Regions from separate parts of the Homo sapiens genome. Here region 1 is linked to region 2. The links come from fine-mapping of genetic effects on gene expression. Tissue or cell type: sun-exposed skin. Region 2 holds a variant in brackets; the other region holds the start of a gene. All regions are shown on one strand. Distances are between the middles of the regions.

What was found. PIP is the estimated chance that this variant, and not a neighbour inherited with it, causes the effect.
Region 1: SLC44A3 starts here. The variant in region 2 is fine-mapped to the expression of SLC44A3 in sun-exposed skin (GTEx, PIP 0.99). The same link has a PIP of 0.9 or more in unexposed skin.

The regions. Positions count from the first base shown.
Region 1 is chr1:94,819,129-94,821,810 of GRCh38, reverse strand. It overlaps SLC44A3 (solute carrier family 44 member 3), which reads right to left and starts at 1,454. Exons shown (of 15, transcript NM_001114106.3): 1 at 1,333-1,454; 2 at 755-862. The coding sequence starts at 1,359. SLC44A3-AS1 (SLC44A3 antisense RNA 1) reads left to right here and starts at 1,579. Exons shown (of 6, transcript NR_160780.1): 1 at 1,579-1,855. RefSeq lists a silencer at 1,261-1,450.
Region 2 is chr1:94,886,433-94,889,114 of GRCh38, reverse strand. All of the region lies in intron 12 of SLC44A3 (solute carrier family 44 member 3), which reads right to left. Among named protein-coding and RNA genes, the nearest start is that of CNN3-DT, 39 kb to the left of the region's middle. The variant A/C (reference allele first, on the strand shown) is at 1,139.

The DNA.
Region 1 (2,682 bases), 67 kb after region 2:
TCTGGTAGTTATTACCCTGCTCTATAAATTAATCATTTACCATGCAGCAAATAGCATGCCTTATCCTGGCATGGATGATTTCGTGAAAGTGGCCTTTGAAAATGTCGGGTGAGACGTTTTCTGCTGTTACCTACAATTCTAAAATAAGTATAAAAGCAGCAAGATTCGGCTTCCAACAGACTCTCTCAGGATTATAACCGCATAGCCTGATGGAGTTTACCAGCAATCATACATACCTCGAAATTAGAGTGGGAAAAATCATTCCTTGTTAGCTATGGTTAACAGTGTTGGCTGCTAAACACAACATATCTCTCGCGCGCGTGTGTGTGTGATGTTCAGCTAAAGGAAATGCAGTTTATTTCTAGGCTTACCCTGGCTTTTCCTTTGTTAAAGGTGCACCAAAAGCTTGAGGAATATTTGATTTGGGGGTGTGGCAGGTGCTAAAAGAACTTCTGTTCAGTAAGTTCGGAGAGTAAAAGGAGACACATTGGCCTTACTAAATAGCAATCACATTGCAAACTGTTAATTCCCATTTCCTAATGGAGTCACCCCTTAGAACATGGCCTGTAGCAAAAAGACAGCCTTTCTAGCGAGTCTAGGACAAGAATTCTCCCGAGTACAAACTGATGTTTATTGTGGGTTAACGGCAGAAGTCTCTCACTGCAGCACCAACTACGATTTACATTTGGGACAGAGTTATTTCCAGACGTGCACACACACTCTGGCCTCTTTCCTACCAAGCACCCACACTTACCAAACCAGTCCAAAAGAGAAAGAACAGGAATAACCATGCCGTATCTGTGCATTTCCTATAAATCTGGGGTCGCCACTCCCTTTGCCTAGGGGCTCCTTCTGCAGAAACCTTCCAGAAAAAGGGAGAGTTGAGAAAAAGAAGATAAACAGGTGGACTCAACCTGGAAACCGAACCCAAATCTACTCGAAGAGGGGCCAAAGTAACCAATCTTTTTCTAAATTTTTAAAATTAATATTATTTTTTTACGTGGCCACCTGAAGCTCTTTCACACAGCCTTTGAAACACCTGCTCTGCGCGGAGCGGATGTTAAGCCCCCTGCCGCCAAGTGCTTACCTGGAGGTGCACCTGAGGACGACCCCAAGTTTGCGCCCCGCGGCCCGCGTCTCCCCCGCCTCCGCCCCAGCACTGGAGCAGGGTCCAGGTTCCTCCCCGCCAGGTGGCCCCAAGGTACTAAGCGGGGGCGGGATCCCCGAGGCGCGGGAAAGGCGGAAGCGTCCGGCAGGGAAGGTGCGTGAAGGCGGGGGACTCGACCCTTCCCCGGGGCTCCTCCCCCGAGGGCCGAGGCTGCGAGCGCTTACCAGGTACTCGGCGCCCAGGCAGTGCATCGTGCGCTCGCCGGCGGGGGCCGGTGACTGGGAGCCGCCGCCGCCTCCTGTACGCGGAGACGCAGCGCCCGCGAGCCGGGGCCGGGGCCGGGGCTGGGGCTGGGGCTGGGGCTGGAGCCGGGGCCGGGCCGGGGAGGGGCGGGCACGGTGCAGCGCCGCCTCCCGTTCGCCTCTGCGCCTGGCCCGGCGACTGCGGGCGCTGCGGTCCACTGGGTCCGCCTCTTCCCGGCATGGGTTTCTGCCCAGCTCACCCGCTGTCAGCTGGGGTCCTGCTCTGGTGGGAGGAAGAGGCTCAGACGCTTCCCTGCCCTCTCGCCTCAACCACCTCGAGGCAGCGGCTCCCAGGATGTGCACTTTGACGACTAAAGCTGAGCCGGCGCCGCCACGACCTTGGGCGGGTGGTCGGCCTCTGCCCTGAGCAGGAAGTAGAAAGTCTCAGCAGACCCTTCCTGAGGGCCGAGCAACAGTGTAGTGGCGTATTCCACATAGCAAACAGGTAAGCAGCATTTACTGTGTGCTGGATTCTGTTCTCACTGCTATTGTTATTCCTAATCTACGGAGGAGGGAAACTGAGGCACGGCCATTGGTGATGCAACTTGTTCGAGGAGACCCAGTAAGTTGTGGAGGCAGGAGTCGAACCCAGACACTCCGGGAGACCGGCGCTCTCGAGGTGGTTTACTCTGACTTCTCTCCCACCTTGCCTTAGGACAATCATTGCCTGACTTCGCAATTGAAATGGTAGTGTCCACTGAAGCGACTGGTGGCATAGTTTTCCAGGTAGTGTCAGACCAGCGCAAAAGCACTGTTGGGGTGAGGAATTTAAAAAACGAAAAACAAAAAAAACTGCAGGCCGACCTCCCCCCACCTCCTCTCAATCAAGCCTCTACCCTTCCCCCTGCCACCCTTAGGGTTGCTAGGTTAATTGCTTCCTTTAGGTGCTGCTTCTCCCTAAGGGTAGAAACCTGACTGGAGGAAAGATCTGGGTAAGTGGGAGAAACTGGGAATGATAGACAGTGGTTCTCTGGTGCCAGCGATTTCCTTCTGGGCTCACACCACCCTCCCACTGCAAACTCACTGGGCCTTCCTGGATGCATGTTTATCAGACAGAGTAGGTGAAACCCCAGGGGAACATGAATTCATAGGACAAAGAATTAGACACTGGAGGAGTGCAACTACTGTTAAAAGACCACAACTGAATAACATATGCCATCTGAAACTGATCAGTAGAGCAGATGGACCAAGATTTTTAAATAAGCATGATAAATTTATTTAAAATGAGTTATGATATTAGCAATATGAATCAGGAAAAAATATGAAACTAAA
Region 2 (2,682 bases):
CCCTCTTCAAGGCCAGCAAGAGAAGAATGTTTGGTTCTTAAAGACAAAAGGCTGGGCCAGGCACGGTGGCTCATGCCTGTAATCCCTGCACTTTGGGAGGCCAGGGGTTGGGGCAGATCAAGAGGTCAGAAGTTGAAGACCAGCCTGACCAACATGGTGAAACCCTGTCTTTACTAAAAATACAAAATATACATATATATGTGTATATATATATATATATAGCCAGTCGTGGTGGCACATGCCTATGATCCTAGCTACTGGGAAGGCTGAGGCAGGAGAAACGCTTGAACCCGGGAAGCAGAGGTTGAAGTGAGCCGAGATCGCACCACTGCACTCCAACCTGGGTGACAGAGCGAGACTCCGCCTCAAAAAAAAAAGACAAAAGGCTGGAAACCATATCCCTGATAGGGCACCATGCTTGCCTTAGAGATTTTCAGTGAGACGTCAGATGAATTTCCTGCAAAAAAAAAAAAGAAAGTTCCACAAGGAAATTTTGGTTTTGGACTTACATAGAATGTGCGTGAAATTTGCTTTGAAAATCTCAAACCAGCTGTTGCTGGAAAGCTGCTCCAGTTTGGGGGCCTGAGTCTTGTGCAGGGATGTGGAAACTCATTTACTCATATTATTTAACTAGGCATCTTCAATCATCTTGGGTTTTCAAAGCCCTGATGACCAATCTATTCATTCATCCTCAAAGCACATCTGTAGGATGGGTGGGTGAAGAATGGCATAATTGTTCTTTTATAGACTGGAAACCAAGATCAAGGGCATTTCCCCCAGGTCCCCTGGTGAATCCATGAGACAGAGACCGTTTTATTTTAATTTTTTAAATTCTAACCTTCTGGACATTACACTATCAATTTTCATTAGGAAAAATTGCTATTTAAAAGCATGGTGGTTACGGTAAGCACAGGCTCTGTAGCCAGACTGTCTCTGTGCTCAAATCCCAATTCTACCACTGACTAGCTGTTGGTCTTGGGCAAATGATCTAACCTCTCTAAGACCTCAATTTCCTCATCTATAAAATGACTTACAGCACCTACCGCAAAGGGATGTTGGGAGGATTAAAGAACCTACTCCCTGTAAAGCACAGAGAAAATGTGTAATAAAGAGTGGTTATTATCATCCAGACATCACC[A/C]AAGATGATCTCATTTACAACTGGGAACACAGAGGCAACTCTTTAAGCACCTGAGGAGGTGTGGCAGGGGCCTGTAGTTGCTTTACCTGTAGGCTTTAATCCCTCACACCCACAGGGATCCAGGAAAGGGCTTTTTAGACCACCTGCCAGCCCCCAGCATCGTCTTACAGCAGCTCCACCATTGCCGCTCAGCCTCTGTCTCTGCCTCCTCTCTTCATTCAGGCTGCCTCCAGCCCACCACCCCATCACTTCCCCACTCTAAGCTTCCTAAAGTGCTTCTTGCTTCCCATGGGGAAGCACTGTTTTTGTGGGGACTTCTTTTTCTGCAGATCACTGCCTCGTATTTAATTTAGCACCATCTCTCATAAGTAGTAAAAACAGATTTCGCTCTTTGGCTAAAATGATTAAAATTTAAAAAGGTATTATACTTTCTCATGCATGTGTTGACTCCAAAGAGTTTTGGGGCCCATAAGCATTTATCTTTTCTTATGTATCAGGCCCACTGAAAGAAGGCATTAAAAGCACTCTGATAGAGAAATTATATATGCCTTCCTGCAGGTACCATACCACTAGCATTTTACCAGATTCAACCCTGAGTGCAACAGAGAGATCTAGAATTAACATCTGAATGAATAGGGGGAGGAGGGAGGAATCACTCAAGACACAGGATACGGATTAAACATTTCTGCAGCTTCAGCATTAGCTAATTTATACTTATTCTGAGTAGAAGCTGCTTGTCAGGCAGCTGGAAGATGGAGTGCACTAACATTTTCATCGTAAGTCCTTGTTCTGAGCATTTGTATTTGCCTGGGATGACAGAACTCAGGATTAACGTGCCAAGGTAATCTGCAGACTCTAACAAAATGTGGAAATGATTGGCCATAATAAGGACTAGGAAACACGTTTTATTGGTTGTGGAAGTTAAGAGATCCTAAAGGCTAACCTTTAAACAAGCAAGCAGGAGGTAGTGGCATTCGGCTTTTGATTTATTCCCAAAATTCAGTGTGCATACTTCTTTAGCATCACAAAACAGGTGGGTGGATATTTCTGTCTTGAAATTGAAGCTATAAACACACAAGACAGATACGAGGAAGGATTCCCAAGTTGGCATTGGTAGTATCTCAATATTATGTCCCAATTCTCACTCCCTTGCTTGGGATCCAAGACTCCCTCCAGGTACAGGTGGATTAGTTTTCAGACTTTAATGGACTGGTCACCTGGGACTGTCCCGAGTGGCTGAGAAGCACTGGGGGAAGAACACAATGAGGACGCCCTGTGTGGCTGTGAGGGCTTCAAAACAATGAAATACATAGCACAAGTGCACATGTGAGGGCCACAAAGAGCAGAACCACAAGCTGGAGGGAGAGGGGAAGAGAGGGCCCAGCAGGAGGGATCAGGGAAGGCTTCATGGAAGTGGCATACGAGCTGGCCCCAGTGTTGCCTGTCTCCAGCAGGGTAGGAGGCAGCAGCAGGAGCCAGCAACATGAGCCACAGACATGAGCATACCAGCAGGCTACTGGGGGGCCCCAGCAGAGGAGAAATGG